Regions from separate parts of the Homo sapiens genome. Here all the other regions are linked to region 1. The links come from fine-mapping of genetic effects on plasma protein levels. A gene starts in region 1. Each other region holds a variant in brackets. All regions are shown on one strand. Distances are between the middles of the regions.

What was found. A credible set is the group of variants that fine-mapping cannot tell apart. PIP is the chance, under the fine-mapping model, that this variant and not a neighbour inherited with it causes the effect. Protein levels are from antibody-based Olink assays in UK Biobank. Linkage for the fine-mapping came from a reference panel and not from the study's own genotypes, which makes the PIPs less certain.
Region 2: its variant is the best candidate, but not a certain one, in a credible set for the plasma level of the SLITRK2 protein (UK Biobank, PIP 0.85).
Region 3: its variant is the best candidate, but not a certain one, in a credible set for the plasma level of the SLITRK2 protein (UK Biobank, PIP 0.67).
Region 4: its variant is the best candidate, but not a certain one, in a credible set for the plasma level of the SLITRK2 protein (UK Biobank, PIP 0.81).

The regions. Positions count from the first base shown.
Region 1 is chrX:145,810,225-145,818,333 of GRCh38, reverse strand. It overlaps SLITRK2 (SLIT and NTRK like family member 2), which reads right to left and starts at 505. Exons shown (of 5, transcript NM_032539.5): 1 at 308-505.
Region 2 is chrX:146,978,681-146,986,792 of GRCh38, reverse strand. No RefSeq gene overlaps it. Among named protein-coding and RNA genes, the nearest start is that of CXorf51A, 170 kb to the right of the region's middle. The variant C/T (reference allele first, on the strand shown) is at 4,183.
Region 3 is chrX:145,414,060-145,422,171 of GRCh38, reverse strand. No RefSeq gene overlaps it. Among named protein-coding and RNA genes, the nearest start is that of SPANXN1, 170 kb to the right of the region's middle. The variant G/A (reference allele first, on the strand shown) is at 1,787.
Region 4 is chrX:145,423,089-145,431,200 of GRCh38, reverse strand. No RefSeq gene overlaps it. Among named protein-coding and RNA genes, the nearest start is that of SPANXN1, 180 kb to the right of the region's middle. The variant C/T (reference allele first, on the strand shown) is at 6,357.

The sequences.
Region 1 (8,109 bases):
GCACTGCAGGCCGACCGGAGGCTTCTAGCTCGCGCCGGGTGCGTGGGCCCTCCCTGGCCGCCTGTGCCACCCCGCTGCGCGAGGCGCGGAGCCCGACCACGCCCGCGCGGACGGTCCCGGGGTGAGGAATCTCCAGTGGGGATTGAGGGTAGAGGGCGGCCGCCAGCGAGCTGCCCTCCGCGGATGGCGCCCAGCCTCCCCACGCTGGTGCCCCTCGCAAGGAGAGGTGGCCGGGAAAGGCAACGGACTGAGGAAAGCCGGCTCACTGGCCGCGTCGCCACCGCGTCCCTGAGTGCTCAGAACTTACCGAGCGAGCGCGCCGCCCAGATCTTTTCCCGGAGGCGCCCGCAGCATCTGCGACTCGGGGAGGCAAAGGAGCCGGCACCGCCTCGGACTGGCGCAGCCCAGGAGCGAGAGCACCGCGGGGAGCGCGGGCGGCGCCCCCAGGGCAGGCAGATCCCCACCGAGCAGCTAGCCAACGGGCAACGCTTCTTGCAGGAAGGAGGGAGGGAGGCGAGAGGGAGGAGGGAAGTAAAGCGGGAGGGAGGAGAGGGGAAGAAGGGAGGGAGGAGGGAGGAGGGAGGGAGGAGGGAGGAGGGAGTGAGGAGGGAGGAGGGAGGGAGGAGGGAGGGAGGGATCGCGTCCCCCCTCTCCCTCACTTATCAATCACCCCACAGATCAAATATCCGGGCTGTGCACCCAGGACGGGGATGTAAGAGCCCACAAAGGAGCCGCTGCTCCATTTCTCTGACAAGCGCTGCGGAGCACTGCTCACGCCTCTCGGTCCCTCTTGCCTGGAACTCTGCCCAGCCCTTGCGGCTTCCACCCTGGGCTGCAGCTCGGGCTCGGTCAAGTGAAATAAGAATGGCACACGGTCGGTACCATGTCCAAGGGGAGACTAAGACTACTGGGTGGAAGTTAACGACAAGTGAAAGAGCAGTCAGCCATCCGAGCTGGACACCCTCCGGGACAGCTGCCTCCCCTAACTAGTAAGCGCCCAGTCTTTGGGAGTTCGCAGGCAGATATTTAAGAACCTCCTACGAGGATCGTAAACAAGGACTTTCAACATAAGATAGAGCTGAACTTGAGTTGTGCAAGTGTGTTAACAAAGCAAGCCCTTAGCAGCGTTCCAGTGCCCATTTTGATTCCCTTTATTCTTCACGACGACGTTGCCTGGATCTTCTAGAGCGTGATTTTTGCCATCCTCCCTTCCCTTTTCTCCTTTCTTCTTCCTCTTATTAGTAGTCCAGGTGGTTGTGATTCTATTAAAGGAAGGCGCTCTGTGAAAAGAGTCAGTGTAGTTCAAGAGGGAGGTGCGGTTTTTGCCAAGAGCATTGCGTTTCCCCTCAAGACTTGCTTTCTCTAGGGCCTCTCCTCTACTCTTCCAGAGTATTCGAGATAAAGTTGCAGTTTGATAAATTTATGCCAGGAGTAGGGAGTTCATTTGATGACACTAAGTCATTTTCCCCTCCATCCTGTAGGAGAACGTCATTAATTCAAGTCGTTGCCACCCCCTATCCTTTTCATGCCCGCTAGAGTCTGCAAAACCCCAAATCCTTCTTACTGTCGAAAAGCGTGATGGTGGAGAGCAGACGGGGAGGCGAGGAGAGAGGTGCAAAATTAGACGCAAAATTACCTCTCCAGCTAGTGGATCTGCATTGGAATTTGTCTGTTTCCATATTTCCCATGCCTTTCAACTCGTTCTCACAGCACTGACAACCACCTTTTTCTTGTCCTTCCCGTGGGAATCTTTTGTGCTTCTCCTGTCCTCTCTTCTTGGCTTTCTTTCATAATGGTTTTCTAAGGAGATTATGCTGGGCTTTTTAAAAAGAAAACTACTGGCAATCTTATATTATGAAGATGTACAGAGTTTGCTTTAATAATAGTCGGAAGAATTATAATCGTATCTTCGGAGTTGTAAGGGTCATTACTGTTCCTTTTATTTCATTCTTGAGAAAGCCTTTTTGAAATCTTCCTACCATTCAGATAAGCAACTTCGGAATAACATAGTTCTCACATAAGCACGTGGGCAGTGTATGTACGGTTATATATCCAGAAGCATTGCTCTTCTTTTTACAATATCTGTATTAGTGTAAACATCCAATGTGCTGTTTGCTACAGACTAAAAGCAGTGCACTGAGCACATCATATTATTAACTAAATGAGGTCAGTTAATACTGTTACTTCTGTCTTTACCGTATTTCTGACTGTGTCATCTTTTCATGTCGCTTTTAGTAGATGTTATAAACAACTGCAAAACACAGAGCTAAGAGGCCATTCCAATACAGAAATAATGAGACAGTCATGCTGAAAAACTCAGACAGTTTACTAAGAAGGGTGATGTGTCTGTAGCCAAAGGGAACATACAAAATAAGCAAAAACTTCTATACAGAGTAGAGAAGGAACATGGCATTAATGATGAAAAGTGATACTTTATTTAGATCCAGTAGTAACATGTAATAGATGGCATGCATCAATTTTAATTAGCCTTGTAAGCAAGTCTAACCTGTTCACCAGCCTTCGAAAAGCATTTAGCAGCCTGCCTTTCCACATGGGACCACACTGATAGTAAGACAAAATTAAAAAGAGCAGACTTTTCTTTTTGTCAGCATAAAATTTTCAAGTAGGTGGATAGCTGTGCTTTGAATGCACAGACACGAAAATTGATGAGCAATATAAAACTTTCTGAGAGGGTTTTGCATAGACAGTTATAATGGAGGAGAGTTTGAAGTCTGTGAAAAATTTAAATATGCCAATTTATTTGAAAGCTGCTTTATGCTGAATTTTCTAAAAGCTTCTGTGTTAGAGGAAAATTTCCAAATAGAATTGAATACTAGAGACACCATATTAATGTACTTCTGTTCATTAATAAAAATCACATTATTCTTCTTTATACTAGCACTGTAAATGTATCTTTATATCCATGTGCTGTTTTCTTTTTGAAAAACTTTTATTTTAGGTTCAGGTGTACGTGTGCAAGTTTGTTATATAGGTAAATTGCATGTGGTGGGGGTTTGGTTTACTGTAAGCTACTTTCTATTGTGAAGTTCGTGTTACTAAACAACATAGAGATCCCGATTGGAAAACTAGTGGAAAAACAGAGAAATAAAACTAAATCTTGCCTGGGTTTTTATAATTTCATTCTAAGGTTAGAAGAAAACCAGAAATTTCACCTGCGATGAGTGAGATAAAAAGCGCATATGTTTCCAGGATGATGTAAAGGATGTCCTATTACTGTGTAGTACGTAATTTACCTGAGAATGTTGCTTTTTCAACTTCTTCACACCTATCCAGAACTAGAAAGCTTTAAAACATATAAAAGAAGACAAAATGTGCTGCATTTTCAGTGAACATAGTTTCTTTCCAACCAAAGGTTTCAAAGAAGAGTGCCACAGAACAAATTCCTAAATAAAGAAACGCAACAAAGCGGACATGCCCTTAATATTAGTAATTATAGTTTACAGGATATTGTAGACTTTTGTTCCTGATGTTATTGAAAAGGTGGATATTTTTCAATTCAATTCAATTATTTGGATTATTTGGCAGGCATTTTGGCCTGATTGAAATAGTGCTGGGCCAAGACCCAGGGCAGTTTTTCTTTTAATCAAATACATATCCAAGCCCTTGGAGCCCAATGACCTGGGTTCAAATTCCACCCGTGCTACTTTCTCACAATGGGACAAAAACAGCATTACACCAATTTCAGTTCCCCATGTGTAAAACTGGCACCTGCTATGTGGAGTCAGTAAGGATGGGATGTATACAGAACTCTTGAAAATTGAACGGTGGTACATGTATGTGCAAATAAATCTTAAACTAAAAAAATTTTTAACTCACTTCTTAAAATAAATAAGTTATACAAAATATTTTATATCTGTTTTCTATGTTTCTCATGACAATCCTCAACAGGCCAGTATGATTAGCCAGACTTTACAAAAGAGGAAAGTGAGACTCAGAAAATTTAAGTAACTTACCCTTACTCCCATTCTTGGTGAAATGGTTGATTTTAGTCAGAAACCAACATCTTAATTTAAGTTGGATAACAGAATTAGCATTAGAAAAAATATTTATGATTCTAGTTGGAGCCATGTAATGTCAAACATTTAAAATAACTTCAAAAAAATTCCATCTTTCATTTTACAGATGTTTTCAAATAGTTACATATATGTATACATCAGGGCTCAAACTCAACACTGTTGATATATTTGGTCAAATGATTATTTGTTGTGGGGGCTGCCCTATGCAATGTAGAAGGATTAGCAGCGTCACTGGCTTTTGTGTGTGTGTGTAATGTGCATATGTATACTATATATACATACGTGTAATTATATAAATGTAATAAGTAATATAACAATATATAATGAAATATTATTCTATTGTAGTCGATTTTTTAAATGCTTGGCTGTGGCCCACTAAACTGAACTCAGGAGTGACTGTAGATTGCCTCTTACAGTTTGAATAACACTGCCACGCTGGAATGGGCAGGAAAGGAAGGAAAATGGGATAGAAAGGAGAAAAGAGGCAGTAGATCAAGAGGGGAAGTACAGAAATAGAAGGAAAAGACAACTGCATGTCTTACAAAGTTATAGAAAGACTTATGGTGCCCCCATCAATTACACCAAGTGCCACTTATTAATGATACCTGTTCTCTAAGGGCTCTGGCTCTCCCTCTTTTTTGACTGAGTCCAGTGATTTATCAGTAAGAACCACATTTAAGCTTACTAGACTTGGGAGCACATATACATGGCAAAAGCCACAAATTTAACAGATAAGGCTCAGGACAGCATTAGTAGGTATTTCATCTATCCTGACACATTCTATCTTATGAATTTTGCTGCAGCTGGAAGTCATATTTTGGTTTGGAGTTACAACCTAATGTGTTCAGGAGGAAGCCAAATTTATTAGGTTTGACATTGCACTTTATTGGAATGGTATAATGCAGTTGAGCCTCTGTAATAAGTTCTGTTGATTTTATTTATGTATTTATGTTTGGCTAGTATAAATATATGGTAAAGTATGTGCTGTGGTAGAGAGTTTAATGCTGACTCTGCTGGAAAATTCAAAAATGTCTGCATAGAAGATGCCCAGTTCTAAAGAGTTACGGTCAGAGGAGCAGCTACTCAGGATTTGCACTAAGTAGTTCTGATTTTTAAAAATGTCATCATTTGTGAAGAGGACTAGTCTATTAATATGAACAAAATGGCAAGGATGACATACCCCAGATCTACCTGAAGTTGTGATTTGCACAAAATGAAGCAGAGTTTCAAAATTGTAGGTTTAGAAATGAGGCAAGTAAGATCTAGAATGTAAATAAAATCATTTCCAGTAATAACTGGATGCCGCATTCAACCATCATTGCAAATCAATGTGAGGAGAATGGATGTTTTTTACCTTGAATCCTGATGACTTATTACTCAGATGTGATATCAATTATTTTTGTCCCCTTCTATTTTTCATCTCCCAGGCAGTTTCTTAAGTGACAGTACAATGACATTTGGAATACAACCCTCTTCACCTGATTATGGTAGGTCAGGTAACCTCTTAGTCAGATGTAACGGCCCCAGGACATATATTAAGTAACTTTTGCATCTGCCTTTGGTCTCACTATATTCCTAAGCAAATTGAAAAGAAAATGAGCCTCAAGTTTTATGAGTTTTAGATTACCTAAATACACCTGAAGTTCTCTTAGAAGAATAGCCTGAAGTGTCTCTGAGGTGGAAGAATTATATGCAGCATCTTGAAAGCATCACTTTGCGGGAATCTCAGGAAACCATGCCAATATTGAAAGCATAATTATCACCAAATTTTTCTTCCACCGTGGGCATCACCACAGCAACACAAGTACAGGAGTGGGGTCAGTGTCACTTTATTAATATTTTGAAAGGAGGCAAAAGCAAGCTTATTTTTTTTTGCTACACATCGTTGCTTCAGAATAATAAATTCAGTATGCTGATCCTTTAGCTTTTCATATATAGGTCTAGTTGACCGAGGTTAGAGAATGGCACAATTAGAACTGGAAAATTTATTTGCCTTAATTTGAATATATTGAACTGTTTAATGTATTTTTCAATAAAAATACTAATATGTAGGGAGCGCTGTACATGACTGCTAAATGATGAACGCTGGTTATTATTTGCAGCATGGAAAGACAACTGTCAAATTAATGAACTGATGTTCTGGTTACAATTTTAAAAAATATAATCACTCAATTTCAGGTAACTCCTATACTTGAATATAAATAAACATTGTATAACAATTTTGACTAAACCTGGATCCCTGCTGTAAAGTTCCAGTTGCTTGGAATTCAAATGTCATATGATTTACTGAAGGTTCTGAATGGATCTGCTTTGATTTATATTGCAACATTGGGGTGTATTGAATTCCAATGAAATTGTTGATTTGTTATCTTTGCTATGGCCATTAGCCAAATTCATTCTTGAGCTGCAGTGGTGATGTAGATCACAGCTTACCTGGCTTCATCAAGTTGTGTTTCTCTATGGTTTTTAAGTATGTGGTTTGGCTAAAGTAGAGTTCAAGGACACAGATGGACCATAATACCTATATTAAATTAAACATCCAACTTCTTGATCAATTTTCAGTGTTAATATGCAAAGCACCTGTATTAGTCTGTTCTCACACTGCTAATAAAAACATACCCAAGACTGGGAAATTTATTTAAAAAAAAAAAAAAAAGAGAGGTTTAATGGACTCACAGTTCCACATGGCTGGGAGGCCTCACAATTATGGCAGAAGGTGAAAGCCATGTCTTACATGGCGGCAGACAAGAGAGAATGAGAACCAAGTGAAAGGGGAAACCCCTTATAAAATTAACAGATCTCATCATGAGACTTACTACCACGAGAACAGTATGGGGGAAACCACCCCATGATTCTATTATCTCTCACCAGGTCCCTCCCACAAAACGTGGGAATTATGGGAACTACAATTCAAGATGAGATTTGGATGGGGACACAGCCAAACCATATCAGTACCTTAAATAATTTTAAAAACCCACCTTAATAAATTACTGTAACTGATAATTCTATGTAAAAAGTCTCAAAATAATAGGGGAACAGGGCAAGTGATCTACAATTAAACTGCAGGCTTACAAAGCTTCTTTCATGCGTGTTCAATTCTTATCTTTCATTGAAATACCAAAGTAATGTAATGTTTAAGAATTTTCTACTTGCAAAATGCTGATGATTATTTTGGGTATAAAAGCACTTGATAGCCTAAGAGTTTGTGTTTTATGTATGTGCCTATCTATCAATACCTTCCTTTCCCTGTTTCCTCCCTTCCTTCCTTCTTTTCTTTCTTTTATAATTGATTTGGGAATTCCTTCATTCACAGTTAGATGTTTTATCAACAAAAAGTATAAACACTACAGGGAGCAGTTTATATTATGATAAAATGATTACTTGAAATGGGTTATCACTACATATAAGTTTCTACGATAAAGATATCATCATGTTTTTTTTTTTGTTCGACAGTCTCGCTCTGATGCCAGGCTGGAGTGCAGTGGTGCAATCTCAGCTCACTGCAACCTCTGCCTCCCGGGTTCAAGCAAATCTCCTGCCTCAGCCTCCCGAGTAGTTGGGACTACAGGCACGCACGCCACCATGCCCAGCTAATTTTTGTATTTTTAGGAGAGACGGGGTTTCACCATGTTGGCCAGGATGGTCTCAATCTCTTGACCTCATGACCTGCCTTGGCCTCCCAAAGTGCTGGGATTACAGGTGTGAGCCACCGTGCCCAGCCATAATTGTTATTTTTACTCAAATTTCCATAGGCTATTAGAATGGTAGGATGGGAAGGGGATCTAGCTTCAGCGTACCTTATTTTGTAGTTTGTGTTCATCTCCAACATCCACATCCCCTGGGCCCTTGTTAAACAGGAAGATTTCTGAGCTCCTCTAAAATCTTACCGAATAGAACTTTCTGAAGGTGAAGTCTGGGAATGGTACTTTTATAGGACTCTCAAGGGAATCTGATGTAAATGGCAAGATCCATTCTAGTCCAACATCTTCATTTTATAGATGGGGAAAATGAGGCTCAGAGAGGTGAAGTGATTTTATTCAGTCATACAGGCAGAGTCAAAAGAAAAATTCAC
Region 2 (8,112 bases), 1.2 Mb before region 1:
AGAAATTCTGAATCCCAGCAGAAAGTTTATACAAATTTATCTTGAAAAGCAGCATTTAAATTTTAGCATAAAACTGTATTTTGAAAGAGAGAGACACAAAAATCGTCATTCACAGTTGTACACAAATGGAAAGATGCCATTCTTTGAGGCACAAATTCCCACAGTGGGGATCACATTTCAGTTACCCTAAGGTAAAGCACTTAGCCTACTGTGATCTTATGATAAAAATTCCACAATCCTGAATAAAGGCAATTCAAATGATTCCAGTTTTTAAGCTATGAGCTGTTCTTGCTTGTCACACTGTATGACGTAACAACATTTTATAAAGCTTAATGGGATGCAAACCCATTATATCACCCATTTGCAAAAGAGATAACTCCATTTATGTCACATATATTTTGTAACAAGATTTAATTAAAATAGAACAAACACAATTATGTTCTTCCAACTAGCCAGTGGAATGTTTCTGTCATGTACAAAACATGAAGAAAGTTACTAAAAGGACAAAGAAGAGATAAGAAGTAGGCTCCTCTTTCTGATCCTCTGACAGCATATACAGCTCTTTCAACAAATATTTACTAAGTACCTACTATGTGTCAATCCAGAGAGAGAGAGAGAGAGAGAGAGAGAGAGTGTGTGTGTGAGTTGTTGAAAGTACTAATACAAATCAGGCAAACTGCCTGCCTTCAATGAGAGCATTATCTGGCTTGTGAGACAGAAAAGGAGAGATAGAAAAAAATAATAGCACTAGGATAAAGAAATATATAAAAGGATAGAGAAACAGAGGATAATAATCAGCTCAGCTAAGGGAACTCAAGGAAGGATTTACAGAATGAAGAATACTTGAATTGTGCTTCCAAAATGAATAAGATTTAATTGAAAAAGACCAACAAAATCAAATTGTGAAAAAGCACAATAATATAAAAAAACAAATAAAAATGAAAGCAACATACACTCCCATTTTTCTGTGGCCTGTGCCTCCTTCCTGAATTCTAGATTATATATATATATATAGCTGTTTACTTGTCATCACCATTGGAATGTCTAATAAGTATTTCCTGATCTTTTCCCTTACCATACTCACTCCTCTGCAGTCTTCCCCATTTCATTATATGGCACTGTCATTCACCCAATTGCTCAGATGAAAACACCTTGGAATCATCCTTGACTCTTAACTCTCATCTCACATCTAATCCAACAGCAAATTATCTAAGTGCTATTTTCACAATATATCCAGCATCTGGGCACTTCTCACTATCCTTACTGCTGACTTTACCCAATCTGAATTATTCTCTTCATTCTTATTGATACTATCTTGATCCAAACCATAATTCTCCCTCCTCTAGATTACTCCCTAGAGAACTACATTCTAACTGATCTCTCTGATTTTACCTTTGTCTTTTTTTTTTTTACGGTCTGAAGCCTATTGCCTACAATCCTGTTAAAATGTTAAGTCCTTTCAGTTTTCTGTTCAATCCCCTCCTAATGCCTTTTTATACACTATAGAGTAAAAGCCAAACATATGATCGCTTACAAATCCCTGCACAATATCGTCCCCCATTCGTATCACATTTCTAATTCTCTTCCCCAAGTTAACTCTGATTCTGGTACTGTGGATTCCTCATTCTCCTAGGAACTCCTGCCTTGGGAATTTTGCACTCTTTGCTATCTCAACCTGCAAGGCATTTTCCCAAGTATCTGCATGGATCACTCCCTCAGGTCTATTGTGTCATTGCTCAAAAGTCATCATTTCAAAGACAGTTCTTCTATATAAAGTAGGGCCCACTCACCTTCACTTTATACCTTCCTTACCTTGCATCACTTTCATAGAACTTACCACTTATCTACATCTTATTACATATTATTTTTATTGGCTGTCTCCTACTCCAGACCATAAGCTAAATTAAGGTAGATAATTTTTCTCTTAAGTATTTCTGAGAGAAGAGAGAAATCCTGGTTGAATATTTTCTAAATGAATGAAAAAAATGTATATAGAGAGTAACAAAATAAAATACCTCCCTCATACCATACACACGTGTAAATCACAGTTTTATGTAAAGCTTTATAATTAAAAAATAAAAGAATATGTTTATTACAATGAAATAGTAAATAATTTCTTAAATTAGATGAAAGAGACACGAAACTTGAATGACAATATTGATAAAATTAAATGCATTTAAATAAATAATTTCCAGGATAAAAAAATATTTTAAAATAAAATAGTAGTTATGGGGGAAGAAGATATTTATAATAGATATAATGCACAAAAGTAATATCCATGATATAAAATTATTATAGCTCATTTTTTATAAAGATAAACAATGTGGTAGAAAAATGGGCCATAAATATGCAGATAAGATCCATAAGAAGAAAATATATGGCCAATGTAATCTCTGTAAGGACAGGGATATTATCCATTTTCTTGATTTTTTTTATTCCCAATACTTAATTCATTTTCTAACACTTAGCATTCGGACACAAATTCTTTGTCAAAATTTATTTAATGTAAAAAATAAAGTACATAAAAAACGTAAAAGATGCTCAACATTACTAGTAGTCAGGAAAACACAAATTAAGCAACTCAGATACAATTTCACATCCATTGTGTTTGCAGAAATTGTGTGATGACATCACATGCCAGCCAGTAGATGGATAAACAGTAATCATAAATAATAAATAATAAACATTTATTATAGGCAGAAGTGTAAACCAATCAAACCAGTCTGAATAGCAAATGGGTAGTACCTTAAAATGTTGATAATATAAATGTAAAACCTTTCTCCCCAATAAAACTACTTCTAGGTTTTAGCTGCATCAGGGAAATCCTTACATATGTTTACAAGGAGACATGTGCAAAGGCATTTATTGAAGCATTGTTATTAATAACCAAAAAGCAGAAATACCAAATGGTCTCCAAGAGGGATCATTGATAAAGAGAACAGTTTATTCATCTATCAGTTAAAAAGAGTGAAATAGACTTAAATATATCTAAATTCTTCAATTTCAAAGCGTAATGAGGGATAGAAGCATCTTCTCAAAGTGTAATTAGAGGTCCTCTCCTTTCCTGATAATTCATGAATCTAAAAAGAAAAGAAAGTGTCACTTCTCCCAAAGAAAATCACTATAACAAGCAAAGCAAAACAAAACAAAACAAAATTCTTACAACAACAAAGCTATGAAATTATAACATTTATTGAATACATCAATGATGAAGCAATGACAAAAGAAATCAGAGATAGGACATGAACACTGGCTCACCCACTGGCAGAATAAAGAAACATCAAGTGTATACAAGTAGGAAAGAAGAAGTCAGTTAAAGATTGTAACACATTGCTAAAAGAAGAGTGTAGGCTAGTGTGCAGGTACAGAACTCCTGTGAGCCTCGGACACAAAAGGGCTGCTACCACAGACAGGATCTTCTCCACCAACTTCCACCTGGTTGTTAAAGATTGGGAAAAAAAAGCAGGAGATTGAAGAAAGCTTTTCTTGGTGGTACAAGCCTGAAAGAATATAGATGCCATTGTTGTGTAAAAAGTATGAAGCTCCTCTCTAATCCTTATGCCCTACAGAAAAACATATCATCTGTAAATATCCTTGGTAGGGGCAGTAAGTCTAATTCTTCCAAGGGCAGGAGTGAAGAATCACTGTAGCTGGGAAAGGTTAAAAAAAAGATTTAAAAAAATCTCTCTGTCCCTAGAAGACTACCAGAAATCAGTCATGAGCCTAGACAAGTATGTTCTGCTGCAGTGATGGGGCAAGAAGCCCTTGGCTCTACAAGAGTCACCAAAGATAAAAGGTATAGTTTGAGGTGGAAAGACAGTGGAAGAGAAAGACCACAGAGAATGACAAATGCCTGTGAAAGAATGGGGCTTTGCCATCTAAAAGAGATTCTCCCGGACTTCACTACCTAACTTACAAGCACAAAATTACAAGAAACAACAGTTTACTGCTGGGTAAGGGGTAAGACAATGGAAAGAGACCTCCTCCATGGTGCAGATGTAGAGGGAACACTGAAACCTGAGGATGAAGTAAGAACATTAAGACAGCTCTCTTTTTTAAGCACAAAATAATTCTACTGTACCAAAAGAAAAAAGAGACAAGAATTACAGCAAAGTTTTCTCAGAAATTATGTAAGCTAGAAGACAATGCAGCAATACCTTTAATGTACTGAACAAAAATAAA[C/T]GGCCAATCCAAAAGTCTATATTCAGTGACAATAATTTTCAAACATGTGGTCGCATGATTTCTGACAAACTAAAGCTAAAGGTATCATTGCCAGCAGAGCTGAACCAGAATACCCCTTTTAAAAAGTGTTTCAGGCTGAAAAAATATAATACTATTCAGAAACATGAATCCACACAAAAAATTGAAGATATCCAAAAATGGCTAAAATAAAAGTAGATATAGAAGATTTTGGTTTTTTAACTTCTAATTTATAATGACTCTAAAAGAAAATTGACTTTCTAAAGCACAAAGTAGTATCAATTATGTTGTAGGTTTATAACATATATCTGAGCAAAATGTGTGACAACAATAGTAAAAGAGAAGAGATAGAAATTGAAATGATAATGAAGTTTTTACACATTACATGAAGTGATGCTGTATTATTTGAAGGTAGATGGTGATCAATTAGAGATGCACATTGCAAAGCTTAAGGCAACCACTAAATTTTTAAAGATACACAGTTATTAAATAAGTGTTTATAGTTATTTTAATTAATACAATGCAATTAACAATGTTGTATAAGTGTATGACTTAAAAATTAATAATCCATGAGAACTTCCCAACCTTGTTAGACAGGTCAACATTCAAATTCAGGAAATGCAGAGAACCCCATAAGATACTTTGTGAGAAGATCATCCACAAGACACATAATCAACAGATTCTCCAAGGTTGAAACGAAAGAAAAAATGTTAAGGGTGGCCATAAGGAAAGGCCAGGTAACCTACAAAGGGCATCAGACTAACAACAGACCTCTCAGCAGAAATCCTGCAAGCCAGAAGAGATTGGGGACTAATATTTAACATTCTTTAAAAAAAAAAAAAAGCAATTCCAACCCAGAGTTTCATATCTGGCCAAACTAAGCTTCATAAGGGGAGGAGAAATAAGATCTTTTTCAGACAAGCAAATGCTGAGAAAAGTTGTTACCTCTAGACTTGCCTTACAAGAGCTCCTGAAGTAAGCACTAAATATTGAAAGAAAAAAAAACACTACCAGCCACCACAAAAAGACATTTTATTACACAGAATAGTGACACTGTGAAGCAATCCCATAAACAAGTCAACAAAATAACCAGCTAGCATCATGACGACAGGATCAAATCCACACATATCAATACTAACTTTAAATGTAACTGGGCTGAATGCGCCAATTAAAAGACACACAGAGTGACAAGCTGGATAAAGAACCAAGACACACTGGTACACTCTCTGCACGAGACCCATCTCACATGCAATGACATACATAGGCTCAACATAAAGGGATGGAGGAAAATGTACCAAGCAAAGGGAAAACAGAAAAAAGCAGGGATTGCAATCCTAGTTTGTCACAAAACAGACTTTAAACCAACAAGGAAAAAGAAGACAAAGGAGGACAGTACATAATGGTAAAGGGATCAATTCAACAAGAAGAGCTAACTATCCTAAATATATATGCACCGCACACAGGAGCACCCGGATTCATAAAGAAAGTTTCTAGAGACTTTCAAAGTCACTGAGACCCCCAAACAATAATAGTGGGAGACTTTAACACTCCACTGACAATATTAGACAGATCACTGAGACATAAAATTAACAAAGATATTCAGGACCTGAACTCAGCTCTAAATTAAATGGTCCTGATAGATATCTACAGAACTCTCCACCCCAAAACATCAGAATATACATTCTTTTCATCACCACATGGCACTTTTACTCTAAAATTGGTCACATAATCAGAAGTAAAACACTACTCAGAAAATGCAAAAGAACTGAAATCCTAACAGTCTCTTGGACCCCAGCACAATCAAATTAGAACTTAAGACTAAGAAATTCACTCAAAAACATACGATTACATGGAAATTGAATAATGACTGAATGACTTGTGGGTTTATAATAAAACTAAGGCAGAAATCAAGAGGTTATTTAAAACTAATGAGAACAAAGATACAACATACCAGAATCTCTGAGACATACCTAAGGCAGTGTTAAGTGGGAAATTTATAGCACTAAATGCCCACATCAAAAAGCCTGAAAGATGTCAAGTTAACAATCTAACATCACAACTAAAAGAACTAGAGAACCAAGGCAAACAAATCCCAAAGCTGGCAGAAGACCAAAAAATTACAAAAATCAGAGCTGACCTGGAGATAGAGATCCAAAAAAACATTCAAAAGATCAATGAATCCAGGAGTTGGTTTTTCAAAAAGCTAATAAAATAGAGAGACCACAAGCTAGACTAATAAAAAAGAAAAGAGAGAAGGTTTAAATAAGCACAATCAGAAATAATAAGGGGGATATTACCGCTGACCTCACAGTAATACAAACAATTATCAGAGAATATTATAAACACCTCTACGCACATAAACTAACAAAATCTAAAAGACATGTATAAATTTCTGGACACATACATCCTCCCAAGACTGAACCAGGGAGCAATGGAAACTCTGCACAGACTAACCAGCTCTGAAATTGAGGTCATAATAAATAGCCTAAAAAAAAAAAAAAAAAAAAAAAAGAAAAAAACCAGGGCCAGAAGGATTCACAGCTGAATTCTACAAGAGGTGCAAAGAAGAACAGGTACCATTTCTACTGAAACTATTTCAAAACACTGAAAAGAAGGGACTCCTCCCTAACTCATTCTGAGGCCAGCATCATCCTGATATCAAAACCTGACAGAGATACAACAAAAGAAGAAAACTTCAGGCCAATATCCTTGATGGACATTGGTGCAAAAATTCTCAACAAAATACTGGAAAACTGAATCTGGCAGCACATCAAAAAGCTAATCCACCACAATCAAACAGCCTTCATTCATGGGATGCAAAGTTGGCTCTACACACACAAATCAATAAATGTGATTCATCACATAAACAGAATTAAAGATGAAAACTACCTGATTATCTCAATAAACGTAGAAAAGGCTTTTGATAAAATTTAACATCTCTTCATATTAAACACTCTCAACAAGCTAGATATTAAAGGAACATACCTCAAAATAATAAGAGCCATTTATGACGAACCCACAGCCAACATCACACTGAATGAAAAAAAGCTGGAAGCATTCCCCTTGAAAACCAGCGCAAGACAAGGATGCCCACTCTCACCACTTCCATTCAAATGGTATTAGAAGTCCTAGCCAGAGGAATCAGGCAAGATAGAGAAATAAAGGCATCCAAACAGGAAGAGAGGAAGTCAAACTACCTCTGTTTGCAGATGACATGGTTCTATGTCTACAAAACACCATAGTATCGGCCCCAAAGCTTCTTACAGCTGATAAACAACTTCAGCAAGGTTTCAGGGTACAAAATTAATGTACAAAAACTGCTAGCATTCCTATACATCACCAACAACAAAACAGAGAGCCAAATCAGAAAGGTAATCCCATTCACAATTGCCACAAAGAGAATAAAATACCTAGGAATACAGCTAACAAAGGAGGTGAAAGAGCTCTACAATGAGAATACAAAACACTGCTCAAATATATCAGAGAAGACACAAAGAAATGGAAAAAAAATCTCATGCTCATGAATAGAAAGAATCCATAACATTAAAATGGTTACACTGCTCAAAGCCATTTACAGATTCAATAGTATTCCTATCACACTACCAATGACATTCTTCACAGAACTAGAAAAAAAAATAATTTTATTTGGAACCTAAAAAGAGCCGGAATAGCCAACGCTATCCTTAGCAAAAAGAAGAAAGCTGGAAGAGTCACATTACCCTACTTCAAACTATACTATAAGGCTAAAGTGACCAAAACAGCATGGTGCTGGTACAAAAATAGGCACATAGGCCAATGGAACAGAATAGAGGGCCCAGAAATAAGGCTTCTTATCTATGACCATCTGATCTTTGACAAAGCTGACAAAAACAAGCAGTAGGGGAAAGACATCCTATTCAATAAATGATGCTG
Region 3 (8,112 bases), 400 kb after region 1:
CTGCATAGGTGTAAATATCGGTGACACCCATTGTGGTTTCAAGATATGGATAATGGATTTTCATGGGAATCTAAAATTATTGATGCTATTATAAAAAATCAGTAGAGAAAGTAAAGTTTATTCAGTAATTGATATTAAGAACATTGTCAATTTAGGATACATTAAATTTACATTGTCATAGCACATCAATATAAATTCTTATATAGCATTCTGACATAAGAATTTAATAAATAGAAAAAAGATAAAGAAATGGTTTTCAAATCTATGGAGTATTTTCACATATTAATGTGACAGGCAAAAATCGCTAAAAATTAAAAGGTATAGCTTTAACGAATTAAAATAATTAAAAAGTAAAAGCAAACAATAAGAAAACTATTTGTACCATATATAAATATATAATAATATTCAGTCTCCGTTAGGAATAAATTAACAGAAAGGAACAATAACTGGTTAACAAACCAATGGGAAAAATCACATCATTACTAATCAAAAAATACAAACGAAAGTAACAGTTGAATAGCAATTTTAACTTTCAAAGTTCTAATAATTACTACCAATAATGGCAGTAAAAGCTGGTGACAGAACATGGGTAGTAGAGTGTAAATTTTTATAGACCTTTCAGAAAATAACTTGATACTACATTATTGTTAAAAATGTCCATATTTGCTGGAATAGCTGTGGAGAGTCAAGAAATCACTTGCAGCTCAGCTGGAGGAATGCAATTAGCTGACACTCACTAGATACAGTACCTTCATTATTTGTTGCAACATTTCCTCCAAAGCCATGCTCTTCCCTGGCAGCTGACTGAGCATGGTAGGGCTACCAAAGCTTAGGCATTTCTGCAGAACATGGGACACTTAATGTACAATAACCAGAGCTCCTTTCTTTTGGGCTAGTGAAGACTTTCTCCAAGCTTCATGACAGTTTGAGAATCTTTCATAATAATTACTTTTCTTTTCCTCTCTTTCACAAGTGTCTTATGTACATTGTGATCTGGATCTCTCCCTGCCTACTTCTGTGCCCTCTATGATTTCACAAGTATTTTTCTCAATAAATCTCTTGCATTTCTAACTCCTTCTTGGCATACGCTTTCCACAAGACCTGAAGTTGCAAATCCATTCGTTTTAATTCTATGTATTTATACTAAGAAAGTATTCCCAAATATGGAACAAAACTTTAAACGTAAATATCTTCATTACAGAAATATTATATTCAAGAATATGAGGAAAAAATCCAAGTTTTTAACAACTGGAAAATAGCTAAGATAAATTTCAGAATATTTTGTAGCTATTAAATTAATTCATATAGAATATTTAAAACTATAAGGAATGCATGTTATGTGAAAAATACAGTAAATAAAATTACACACATGCTATTACCACAATTGTCTGAACAATTAAAAAAATATAATTAAAGCAAAATTACGTTGAAAACAGCTAGACACAATATAAGTTATGGCATTTCAGCAGCTCTTAATAGCAATTAACAAAATGTTAATACATTTTAGGTATTTATTGATAAATTCTATTTTAAATATAGTCAACAATAATATCTTTCTATAGCCAACACTAAGAAGTCCAGTGTCTGAATTTAGGAGAGATGAATATGCTATTGTTCCTGTGAATAAATATCACATATAGATGTTAAAAATCTATCTCTGAACCACTTTTGCTACTTCTATTCAACATAGTACTAGAAGTCCCAGCCACAGCAATTAAACAAAAATGGCACCAAAATAGAAAAGAAAGAAGTTAAATTGTCTCTGTTGCAGATATCATAATCTTAT[G/A]TGTAGAAAACCCTAAAGACTCTACCTAAAACTGTTAGAACTAGGAAATTAATTCACTAAAGTTTCAGGATACAAAATCACAATACAAAAGTAAGTTGTGTTTTTATACACGAACAATGAACTATGAAAACTGTTAAAAATATAATTCCATTTACAATAGCATGAAAATAATAGAATAATTAGGAATAAATTTGATCAATGGTGTGAAAGATCTGTACACTGAAAACTGTACAACATTAGTGAAAGAAATTGAAGATGATACAAATAAATGGAAAGACACCCCATGTTCATAGGTTGGAAGACTTAATATTATTAAAATATCCACACAACTCAAAGAGATCTACAGATTCAGTGCAATCCCTACCAAAATTCCAGTGGTATTTTCCATAGAAATAGAAAAAAAATCCCAAAATTCATATGCAACCACAAGGGACCCCAAATAGCTAAAGCAATCTTTAGAAAGGAAAACTAAAATGGAGGCATCACATGTCCTTATTTCAAACTATATTACAAAGCCATAATAATCAAAACAGTGTGGCACTGGTATAAAAACTAACACATAGATCAATGGAACACAATATAACCCCCATAAATAAATCCATACATATATAGTCAACCAATCTTTGATAGGAGTGCCAAGAATACACAATGGAGAAAGGATGGTTTTTTCAATAAACTGTATTAGAAAATGAGACCTACCCGTGGAGAAGAATTAAATCAGACCCTCCTCCTAAACCATATAAAAAATTAACTCAAATTTGATTAAAGACCTAAATGTAAGATCTGAAACCTTAAAACTCCTAGAAGAAAACATAGGGATAAAGCTCCTTGAACACTGGTCTTGACAATAAATTTTTGGAAGATACCAAAAGCATAGGAAACCAAAGCAAAAATAAACAAGTAGGGCTACATTAAACTAAAATGATTCTGCACAGAAAAGGAAAAAAATCAACGTAATGAAAAGGCAGCCCAAGAAATGAGGGAACATATTTGACTTCTCTACTTTATCTACCCCTGACCTGCTCCTCAAACAGCCACCACTCCTTTCTATGACATGTGCTTTTATCCAGGATAAATAAAAGAAATGGCTTTAAAAATATTATATCTGCATATTACACAGTAAAAATTATCCATAACCCTACACATTATTATCTCTCCCTTTTCTTTCTATAGCCTCCAAACTTTCATCTGATATTTATCCTAAGACATGTGTTCTGTATGTGTATTATTAAAATGGAATATTTTCTCTCTGTTCCTCTTTGGAAGTAGCTAGATTTAAATGATGAGACAAAACAAACACTTTAGAGCTATTTAAAATACTTAATGCATATCACCTAGCTCTACAAATTCCTGGTGAACTCATATCACAGAGAGATTAAACTCACCCAGTGCATGATCATTTTCCTTTGAGGAATTCCCCCTTTGATTTCAAGCTATTATTATCTCTTATGGTTTGCTATCTGAATGAAAAGAAAGTATTTCCACACCAAGGGGTTCACTGCACTTTCAATAATTGCACACTCAAACCCCTAAATCAAGAAGTTTTAAATTCTGACCTTTGTGGGCATGTATATTGATTGGATTTATAAGTTGTCCTTGAATAGCTCACAATCTGAAAGCTATTTGTCTATGTGCCTAATTTTAAACCAGACTCATTGTATTAGTCTGTTCTCAGGCTGCTAATAGAGACATAACTGAGACTGGGCAATTTATAAAGGAAAGAGGTTTAATGGACTCACAGTTCCACATGGCTAGGGAGGCCTCACAATTATGGTGGAAGGCAAAAGAGAGGCAAAGGAATGTCTTACATAGTGGCAGGCAAGAGAGCTCCCCTTTATAAAACCATCAGAGCTCATGAGACTGTTTTTCACTATCATGAAAACAGTATGGGGAAAACAGCCCATATGATTGAATTATCTCCACTTGGCCCCACCCTTGACAGGTGGAGATTATTACAATTCAAAGTGAGATTCTCATGGGTGGGGACACAACCAAACCATATCACTCACTATAAGAACAAAGAAAATTTCCATTAAATCTGAAGACTTTCCAGTTATACTGCACTATTTTTTTCAGGTTTCCTGTTCCTGAAAAAGTGGCCATGTAGAACAATTTAAGAGAATGTATGAATGCTTTTTGGCTAGCAGTTCCATTTTTCTCTCTCTGCATGATATAGGAAAGGGGGGCAAATATGCTGGAGCTTGACAAATTTCTTGGAACCTGATAGTAAAACCTCTGTATCAACATGTCAAAAGGCAGAATAAACTTTTATGTTATACCAAATCCCCACTACTAAGAGATTAATTTGATTCTGAAAGTCAACAAAGCACAATATCTGACTTCTTTTCTTGTTTGTATAGAATGTTCATTTTTACATTAACTAGGCAATTCAACAGGGCCACTTTTCAATATTTTCAATAACTTTAATACAGAGCTCTAAATTTTAACAATTTCTACCTTAGGAGGGTCAATTTATTTGTACAAATATTGGTCCACTAACAGTATAAATGGAAAAATATGCAAATCATACTGTAGTTAGTCTAATAAGTAATTTGATTCTCAAAAACTATAAAGTTATTAAAATTTTCTTTGTGATAAGAATCTGTTTCTCTATTTCCATTGGCTGAAACACAATAAAACACTGAATTAAATCAATGATTCTCCATGATTTTCCATTTACCATAATTTTTTCAGTGATGACAGCCTAGTAAAAGATCTCTCTAGGCTTGCACTCCCTACCACCTCCCTACTATCCATCCATAATAAGGCTATTTTGAATAAGCCAAGTTTGTTTTATTATATGACTTTTATTTGAGACAGGCTCTGTCATCCAGGCTGGAGTACAGTCATACAATCATGGCTCACCACAGCCTCCACCTCCCGGGCTCAAGTGATTTTCCTATCTTAGCCTCCCAAGTAGCTGGGACTATAGGTACATGCCACCATACCAGGCTTTTAAAAAATTATTTTATTTTTGTAGAGATGGTGTCTGACTGTGTTGACCAGGTTGGTTTTTAATTCCTGGGCTCAAGGAATCCTTCCCACCTCAACCTCCCCAAGTGTTGAGATTGCAGACATGAGCCACTGCACCAAGCATGACTGTTTTTAATTGATGAGCTGAGAACACACACATTTTCTGTTTTGTATTACTTTGAGGAATACTTCACTAGAGGCATAAGTGAATGACGATATGGGTAAGAAGGAACAATAGCATTATCAGGCATAATAGCTGGTTGAATGTATGTCGTTTTTGCTGGCTTAAGGTAATCTATATGGTAAAATAAAATAAAGAATCACTTCAACTTTACATTTAAAACTTTTTCTACTTTATTTTTACCTACAAAACATGCCAAAACATGCTTGGATTAGTGTCTTTCTATACTCTTACAGACCAGTCAATATTCTAGGCACTAACTAGGGAGTTAGTTATAAATAAAATATATAAGAATTGTACTTGTGAATCTTAAATTGCAATGGAAGATGTAGAAAGTGAAAGATAAAAATTAGTAAGTATATATAGTATAATACACAATAAGTGATCAGAAAAAAGTGGAAAAATGGGATATGAATGAGTAGTTGCATTTTAGTTAGGTTGGCCATGAACAGCCTTTCTGAAAAACTGAAATTTGAGTAAAGACTTGAAAGAAGTGAGGTATGGAGTCTTGTATACATTTAAGGGAGGAACATTTCATGCAAAGGAAACAGTGCACAAAAATTGAGGCAAAATTACAGTAATTTCCAGGAATAACAAGCGGGCAGTATGTCTGTGGCAAGGTGAATGAGAGGTAGAGTAGCAGTTAAAGTCAGTAAGAAAATGAGGGAGCAGTAAGTTAAGTTGGGCCTTCATGGACAATGTATGGATTTGTATTATATTCTGAGTAAGAGCAGAAGCTATTACAAAATTTTGAGCAGGGTAATGATGCAGGTTGTTATATTGATAATAGACTGAAAGAGACTATTGAAAAAGTTTCTGAAATGAGTTAGGAGACTATTGTGATAATCTAGGTGAGAAGAGATGACTTTTTTGGAATCAAGCCGTAAGAATAGAGGTGGTGAAAAGTGGTAGGATTACCTGATGACTACACTTCACTTGGGATGTGATCAACCCTCTGTAAGGAACTGAGATTACCTAGTAAGTTTCGTTTGAAGAACTCTAGTAATGTTTACTAAATGTGACTCTAGTTGGAGAGTATAGCTATTTGTATACTATTTATTAAGGAATATTCCTTCATCATGTGGGAAAGCTGTCCTCTTTGATAACATGGCTTCAAAAGGGATGCGCATAAAATAGTGCTCACTAGGGTAACATGAGTAAACCAGTTCCCTGCCCAGGATTTGACCAATGCTTTGTGATGAACCAATATATGGCACTAAAATATAACAATAGTAATAATAATAATAATAATAATAATGCACCATAAATCTGGTTAATTGTAGAAGCAGAAACTTTCTATAAGTACCGAATACCTACTGGATGTTAAGTATCTTATGTCTTACAAATAGTTATATTTGATCGGTACATCAGTAAATACAATACCAGTATTGCATTTATAATGGGACTTTTAACTTTCATAATCGTTTTCACTGTCTATTGTTTTCCTTTTCAGTTGGCTACACACAACAGTTTAGAATTCATGCCAATTAGTCATGGTCCATATGGATGCCTTTATGTGCCATGTTTGTGAGCAAGTAGGGATCATGCATGATATACCTCAGTGTCACTGCAAGTCATGTAATGCTAAATATTATCTGCCATGAAGGCAATGGTTTCTTCTTGGTCGGGAAATGTTTGGATGGATTCTTTATTCTTTTCTAATTCAAAGTGCTACAGAGTAGACTACTGACACAAAATAGACTTAGTATGAAAATATGGGCTAGAGGAAGCAATAATCTATATGTTTTGAGTGTTATTTTTCATTAGGATCAAAAACACAAGTGATTTTTGGCCTGAAGGTAAATCACAGATGGACAGGGCTCAGATGGCACATGAAGATACAGAAGTGAATAAGATTCCCTAGTGAGAACTGAGAGTACATCTTGGCAAAAGATAATTTGTCTCCTATATAGTGGGGTCATTACACATAACCTTTGCCCATTCCTCCATCTGGTTTCTATGTCAAATAGCGTTAATTCAGATCTTAGTGGTCTGATTCTCAACCAATTCAAACACAGCAATTATCCCAAACATATACTAAAATGTGCATGTCCACAGTTCCATGTATACATAATTATTTGAGAGTGAATAGGTGGGATAATGCTGACTTCAGTGAAAAGAATAAATAAGTTATTGAAAAAGTCAAATCATCATAATAACAGTATTCCAAGTACAAGGATAAAAATAAATCTCACTCTTTAGAAGCCTTTACTAATATCCCTGTTTTTTTATCTTGAACATTAAACTCTTGTTATTGAAAGAATCACCAGCCTTAGGGGAAAATGCCTGGATAAGAAAGTAAAATTAGACGTGATTGAGTGCTAAGAAAAATACTGGCTGATGAATCACTTCTTAAATAAAGAATAGTTTACTTTCCTCAAAAAAGAAAGAAAAAAGCAACTAGAGCTTAATAGTGGCATAGTTTCTGTACTTTAGATTGTCTGATATTTGATATATAATACAAGTAATAATATCAAGGTAATGTTACCATTATTCCTCCTGGATTATTTAAAAATGGAAAGTGATTAACACAAAGCAATGTATTTGGTTGAATTGTTTTCAGTCTCTGCTTATCTTTGTGTTTTATTGTTGGATCAGTTTCAAATTAGGCACAGATCCACTGAACTCTCCTTGGACATAGGCTTCTTTCAAAGAGAAAAGTACCTAATTTATAGTTAGCTTTATAAGCTGATCAACCTGAAGGGGGGAAATCAGCGCAACAAGACTTCATATGTTCTAATTTGTCATTTTTAAATTCTGGACACAGTCTAATAATTGCAAACTATTATTAAGGTGATAATTAACTGACTATAAAGGATGCTTTTTCAGAAGCATCTCAGTGACCTGAGTAATTTATATTTACCCTCCTAAAACTAAGAGGCTAAGTATATGCTAGAGAAAATTGGCCTAGAGAATGCATTATTTCACAATATGCTGTGATTATACATGGGCTGACAGTCATCAGCATTTGTTGAGTTATTTTATGTAAAGCCTAATGCTACGTACTATGGGGAGATAGATGAATTAGAAAATGTACTTCATCTTCTTCAAATATTCGGTCTTGTGGAGGTTTATAATTTATATTCATGGAAAAAAATGACTTTGGGATTAGTATAAAGATAGATAATCATGATAGGTAGGGTCCACAGTGAGAAGGGAAACGTTGATACAT
Region 4 (8,112 bases), 390 kb after region 1:
ATTGTTATATGCTATCCTGGGACATTAACTATGCGGCCATGCTTATTTTCCTTGATGTTTTGGTATCCTTCACTTTCTATCAGGCTCCACTTTTTTTTCCCTTTCAACTGTCTATTGTATATTTAAAAGGCTTCCTAAACACTGCTTCCTCTGTTTATATTTTTTTCTTAAAAAGCTTCAAAGACTCCCGATTGTTAACATGATAAAATTAAAATTCCTTAGCCTGGTGGTTGAGACTCAAACAATTTCACTTCAAATATATCACTTTAAGCATTGATTATTTCTTTGTGGTGCCGCTGCTCTAATCTTATCTTCTATTTATATCCTTCACATACTCAATGTCCCAGCCCAACTGATTCAGTTGCTATTCTCTAACTAAATTAGCCTCCTACACATCCCCCTCTCTGCTTTTGCTGATTGGAATAACTGAGGTTCTTCTCACATCCAACTCTATCCAAAATCTTACTGCTTTTCCAGGCCCAACTCAAATTCTAAACATTATTTTGTGTATCGGCTGACTGTACAGCCACAGACATAGGTTAAAGGTCCTCTTACTGGGGCCCTGTCCCAAGGGGACCCCTAGTCGTTAGACCTGCCCAAATCACCCCCTGGTGAAGGTAATAGCTCCAAACCAGTGAAACACAAACTGAAATCTGAGGATAATTTTTGCACTTATGTAGTAAGAAATTTTGTAATGAAAATATAAAGTCGAGTTAGACAACATATCGGTTGGACCTTACTCTAAGATCATGGTTTTTGAAAGGATGCGAATAAACTGTGAGTTACTTGATACATAAAGACTCGTATAGCCTTTATAGTTATTTTCATGGATAGAGCAGCCTCTAAAATAATTTAAAAACTTGTTTGGGACTGCAGTAATATGTACTGATCTCTTTAACTATATAATCTCCCCATTTTATATACTTTCTTAGGCCTGTGCATCTCCTGTATCAGAGTTACAGAATTATTATTAGATAACAAGTGTGTATATGTTGCTGTCTGAGTTTTCTAGTCTATAAGCCCCATGAGGGTTGTAGGTTTTTCTGATGTGTTCACCTAGTATAGTGCCTGGTAAATCATGGAGACTTACATACTCATTGAATTACTGACACCACCCATAGTAGGAGATCACGTAGCTGTTGAATAAAGACCTGCCACCCACAAAGGTTTCATTCATACTTCTCAGTATTAGAAATAAAATTCGTGCTCCTGTTCCACTTCAAAATCTGTTTCTATCTTACTATGCAATTAAAGGCAACTCTCTTCTCTTACTGGGGACTCAGTTTCCCCATTTGGGCCAACTAGGAAGGCTTTCAGCAATTATAACTCCTACGATAAAAGTAAATATGACTTATGTTAACCTCACCTTTTTTAGTCCTTCACTTTTCTTCAAATAGTGCAATTCAAGCCTTCATGAGTGATCCTGGCAATTTTTGAACAAATGTCATCATTGAAGTGCAGGCTAATTGTCCACAACGTGCTCCTCTAATAATGAAAACACTACCAACAACAGAGTGCAATGTCATTGCAATGTTAAATCATTCACTTGAAAAATGACTGCGTTTTGAGGCCTGCAGAAGATAATTCAATGAATCTGAATTTGCAGTGATATAGAAATAACTTTTCATTATTTCTTATTAGCTTATTTTTTTGTTTTCATTCATATAAAAATTAGGAGAGATAGATCTTCAATGACTCCCCATTGTTTATGGAAAAAAGCATGGGCTTCTTATCCTGGTATCAAGAAATGCCGAAATTTGTTTGATAGTTTTAATAATTACCTTGATGAATCACACTGGCACACAAGCTTTGGCCCCGGGGTGATAATCAGATATGGTTCCTAATTACTGAGAGCTAAGATCAGGAATTTTAAACTATTTAGAATTTTTGCAGTGTGCCTGAGGTAAATAGTATTTATACTCTTTTTACAGATTAGAAAACAGACTCATAGAATAAGAACAATATAAACAAGGTCATAGGAAGTGCCTGAGCTAGAATTCAGACTTTGCTGTGTCTGACTTCAAAACCTATATTCCTTTCACTCAGGCAAAGGCATTTGACTCCAAAATTACATCATTTAAATACAAATCAGAGTCCGTACCTCATTAGCATGGGGGCATATTTCAGTCTCTCGAATCCAGAATATGTTGGCAGACACTCACATCTTAGTTCACATGTACAAATTGGCTCCATAGCAATCATATCTCCAGAAGCTGTACAAGAAAGAATCTTCTTGTAGATTTAAAAGCTCAGCTTGCTGTCATCATACTCTCTTCTTCCTAGTTGACTGGTGTTAATTTTGCCTACAGTAAAGAAAGATGTAGTGGGGTCACATGTGAAAACCCTCATTACTACTCTAACAATTTACTGCCATCCCATATATATTGGTGAATCAACACAGGATACACTAGATAAATGTATATTATTTAGGAATTTAGCCATGCAACCATAGGCCCTGAAGAAATGGGATAAACCCATTTAAGAAGCAGGATAACTTGACTGAACTGGAGGACGTATCCAGTGGCCTTATGGGCCCCTATCCTTCAGGTACCATTCTTGTATTTTATATAAGGATATTGCTGCTCTAAGTTCATTTATGATGAAAGCCCAACTCTCTATCTCCGCAGTCCAGTTTATCAAAGTGAATTCAATGATAGCAGAGCTGACTTCTCTCTGCAACAGAATGAGAGGAAAGGCCTTGAATTACTCTTAAGTGAAAGTTTTAGACCTGGAATATGTATATTTTTAAAAAATCCATGTGCAAGTTTTATAACATTTTAAAAAATACTTTCAGTTTTTACGTGAATCGTGGCATATATGTATTCAGAACCTTTAAGGGAAAGGGTCCACTGCTTTCATCAGATACTCAATGGAATCTTTGGACTCCTCCCTCCAAAATGAAAACCACTGTCTTAAAATTAATGTAGAGCCAACACTTCCTTGACTTCCTGACTTTTATTCTTCTCTTATCAACTCCAATGAATGATAGGCAGCGTGGTGGCCAAATAACTATATGGCTATCCATATGGGTGGAGGGAGGTATTAGTGGAGTCCTAGTAAGAAATATGCAGTTCAAAATAGCTTCTCTGGTTAAGAAATCACATAGAAATGTGTAAACAAGGAACCGATAAAGTGTTTTGAGTATACACCTTAGGCGCCTAGTGAGTTTTGCAGGACACCAGATGAAGAATTAATAAATCTTGATTTTGTCAGGATACTCTCACAAATAGTGGACTATCAGTAGGGAAAGAAATTTCCCCAAGAGGAATAAACCCTCTGAAGATTTAACTCTCTTTCCTGTAGCACTGTAATCTCATCCAAATGTTTGAAGACCCCTCCTCTATAGCATGCTGGGCATTTTTCTAAACATAGCAAAATAGACTTTACTATTTGCAGAACGTTAGACCCTAAAGAGAAGAGGAAAAATAAAGATGTTTTCATCGTGTAGTTTTCCTTTGTCTTAGCAGTAATATTTGTAAAGCATATTCATGTGATAAATGGATACAGTGAGTGAATGAGGATGCATGACTTCCTGTAATTATATAAATGTACCAAGAGAATAAAGTTAACTCCAGTCTAATCTTTAATACTAGTGTGTATGCTCAAACTCATATCACAAAGTTCTTAGCAGTCTTATGTCTTATTGTGCTATTACTAGTTTACATTTCATTTTATACTATAATAAGCTTCATTCAAATCCTAGTCTGTCAAATGGATCTTCGCATTTATAATTCTACTTACCATCTCATCTCTCTAGCTCAGAAGTTGGTTTTGTGCAGGACACTATACCGCTGTATTCTCATAGATGACACCCAGAATGGCCCAGAATGTGAAATGCTCAATTCAAATTCATTAGCTTGCTTTTATCTATCTATGTGCTTACACATATAATTTATAAAATACACTTAGTTTAATAACATCTATAGTAAATTCACTCGTGACAATTTTACTGACCTCCCTGACCCCATATGAAAGAAAACAGGATTTCCCTAAAAAATCCTTCTTATAAATCAGACCACACCAAAAAGGTCAAAGCAAATAAACAGGTGGAAAACAGTTCTCAAATATTTGTAATAATTTTTTTTCTGATTATAAAGTACTTGTATGATCACTGCACATAATTTTTAAAATATAGATATTTATACACACAGACATGCACACACACACACACACACACCATACATGTGCATATGTCTACATGAGTAAAGTAATCCGTATCACTATAATGGTTGTATTAGTCCATTTTCACATCATTATAAAGAACTTCCCTGAGACTGGGTACTTTATAAAGGAAAGAGGTTTAATTGACTCACAGTTCTGAATGGCTGGGGAGGCCTCAGGAAACTTACAATCATAGTGGAAGGCAAAGGGGAAACAAGGCAGCAGGAGAGAGAAGAGTGAGGGGTGAAGGGGGAAGAGTCACTTTTAAAACGATCAGATTTCATGAGACTTACTCACTATCACAAGAATATCATGGGGAAAACTGCCCCCATGATCCAATCGCCTCCCATCATGTCCCTCCCTTGGCACGTGGGGATTATGTTATATAAAGTCACTGGAAACAGTCAGTTAGCAAATACCAAGTCATTGCTCCTAGGGAAATTACAGAATTAGTATCCTGCAAGCATGTGGCCACAGTATTTCCATCCATTGATCAATACATAGCATCGTTTTATGTGTGTTTATGTTTAAAGATACCTTATTTAGTGCATATTTCTTCCAAATAACAAATTATATGCAGGAATTCTTTATAATGAAACAATAGTTGAGAAGAGTTTCAGCTATTCTTGACCCAGGTTAATATAACAATAAATTGCTGTGTACTATACATTTTTTAAAAATCAGACATCATCTCATAAATCCACAAATTTAGTCACTTTTTCAGTTTCATCACACATGGAAAATATTACTTAAACTGTTTTGGACATCTCCTATGGCAACACTCTCACTGACACACCCAGGGTCAATGGAAATGCAAAAGAAATGGAACTAAATAGACCACACACACACACACACACATGACACACTATTTTTGGTGTAACAGCTGAAACAAGCCAGTAGAGCATTGCATTGTTGGACCTCAACTGGAAACATATATATCAGGAAAATCAAAATTTTTCCCACTCTGCATTTGTCTGAAAATAAATGCTGAAGTATTGAAGTCATTAAAAATAAACTTTAGCTAGTATGTAAACTGTCAAACTCAGAGACTTCAAGTAATGAGAAACAGTTGTCCCTTTTAAAAACAACAAGTGAATGATAATAAAAAATGCAAGATGGTACTGTGGAGACAGGGAAGCATTTGGATGGCCTAGGGATAGAATATATAGATACTTTGAAGACATTTATAAGTATCCATGTCTTTAAAATTAATTTTTATTTAAGTAGCTTTTGGGGTACAAGTGGTTTTTTGTTTCATGGATGAATTCTATAGTGGTGAATTAGGAAAATTTTGTGCACCAATCACCCTAGTAGTGTACATTATACCTAATGTGTACTTTTTAAAAAATCCGTAGCCCCTCTCCCACTCTCCCACTTCTGAGTCTCTAAAGTCCATTATATCACTCTATATGCCTTTGCCTACTCATAGCTTAGCTCCTGCTTAAAAGTGAGAACATGTGTTTATTTTGTTTTCCATCCCTGTGTTACTTCGCTGAGAAGAGTGGCATACAGCTCCATCCAAGTTGCTGCAAACACATTATTTTGTTCCTTTTTATGGCTGAATAGCATTCCATGGTATACCATGGAATAGTATTTTCTTTGTCTACTCATTAGTCGGTGGGCATTTAGGTTGCTTCCACATCTTTGTAATTGAGAATTTTGCTGCTATAAACATAAATGCACAGGTGTCTTTTTCACATAATGACTTATTTTCCTTTGGGTAGGTACCAGGTAGTGGGATTGCTCAATCAAATGGTGTGGTGATTAATACCAAGTGTCAACTTGATTGGATTGAAGGATACAAGGTATTGATCCTGGGTGTGTCAATGAGAGTGTTGCCATAGGAGATTAACATTTGAGTCAGTGGGCTGGGAAAGGCAAACCCACCCTTAATCTGGGTGGGCACCATCTAATCAGCTACCAACATGGTTAGAATATAAAGCAGGCAGAAAAATGTGAAAAGAGAGACTGGCCTAGCCTCCCAGCTTACATCTTTCTCCCATGCTGGGTGCTTCCTGCCCTCGAACTTCCGACTCCAAGTTCTTCAGTTTTGGAACTTGGACTGGCTCTCCTTTTTTTAGCCTGCAGAGGGCTTATTGTGAGACATTGTGATCCTGTGAGTTAATACTTAATAAACTCCATTAGTTCTGTCCTTCCAGAGAGCCCTGAGTAATACAAATGGTAAATCTACTTTT[C/T]GCTCTTTAAGGGATCTACATACTGTTTTGCATAGAAGTTGTACAAATTTGCATTCAAACAAGCAGTGTATAAGCATTCCATTTTTCCCACATCCGAGCCAACATCTAGTGTTTTATGAATTTTTAATAGTGCCCATTCTTGTAGGAGTAAGGTGGTGTCTCCTTGTGGTTTCAATTTGCATTTTCCCAATGATTTGTAATGTTGAGCATTTTTTCATATGTTTGTTGGCCATTTGTATATCTCCTTTAGGGAAATGTCTATTCATGTCCCTTGCCCACTATTGGATAGGGTTATTTGTTTTTGTCTTGATGATTTGTTTGAGTTTCTTGTAGATTCTGGATTCTAGTCTTCTTTCAGATGTACAGTTTGTAAATATTTTCTCTCATTCTTTGGGAGTCTGTTGACTCTGCTGATTATTTCTTTTGCTGTGTAGAAACTTTTTAGTTTAATTAAGTCCCATTTATTTATTTTTGTTTTTGTTGCAGTTGCTTTTGGGGCCTTAGTCATGAATTATTTGCCTAGGCCAATGTTCCAAAGAGTTTATCCAAGGTTTTCTTCTAGAATGTTTATGATTTTTGATCTTAGATTTAAGTCTGATTAATCTAGTTGATTTTTGTATAACGTGAGAGATGAGGATCCACTTTCATTCTCCTACATGTGGCTTGCCAATTATCACAGCACCATTTGTTGAATAGGGTGTCCTTTCCCCACTTTATGTTTTTGCATGGTTTGTCAAATATCAGTTGGCTGTAAGTATTTGGCTTCATTTCAGGGTTCTCTATTCTGTTCCATTGGTCTATGTGCCTTTTTTAAAAACAAATACCATGCTATTTTGGTGACTATAGCCTTAGAGTATAGTTTGAAGTCAGGTAATGTGATGCCTCCAGATTTGTTCTTTTTGCTTAGTCTTGCCTTGGCAGACCAATAGCAAGTTAGTCAGCATGGTGCAGGAAGGGGTGATAGCTATCACACAGCCATTTTCTCCTTCCTGGGTGCAGTGTTATTCTACCAGGAGATGCTGTAATGGACTGTATTGGTTGGCCTCCAGCCAGAAAGTAGCACTTGCAAAGGAGCACCAGCTGTGGTAGTAGCAGTGGGATTTTTACTTGTCTTCTGTTGCCCAGGGATGATACTCTGGTTTCTCAGGCATCGGGTGGGACCGTGTAGCTCCCAAGAGATTCTGTCCTTTTCGTTAAGCCACCAGGGTGAGTGAAGGGGCAAAGCCAGGTAGGGGCTGGGTCAGGCAGGTTTGCACTCTTGGCTTCATGTGCAGGACAAGTAGCAGCCTCTGTCAGCGTCGAGGGATGGGAATGTGCCTCAGACCACTGGTTATAGTCCACTGGGGAGCGTTGCTGTCTCTGCTGCACAGAAGTGTTTGTGCAGGGAGTGAGGAGTAGCAGGTGGTAAGCCCCACACCATTCCCAATGCCCTTGCTAAGGCAGATTCACTCCTACAGTGTTTCACTAACAGCAGCGAGTTGAATTCCAGCCAGCCTGTAATCAGAACTCGCAACTCCCTGGAGCCATAGGCTTTCCCCATGGAGACAGCAGCCTTGGTCTTCAGACCACTCCCCTCCCCACCCACTGCAAAGCCAAGCACTAGGCTATTGCACCTGTGGTTCCTGCACTCACGACACCTGCATTCACAGCCCACTTTTCACTCTCCCTTACCTTGGCCCTGGCTGAAGGAGTTCGTCCCCACCCATGGTTATATCAGGAAACCCCATCTGGGGGCGTCTTTCAACTTGTGACCACT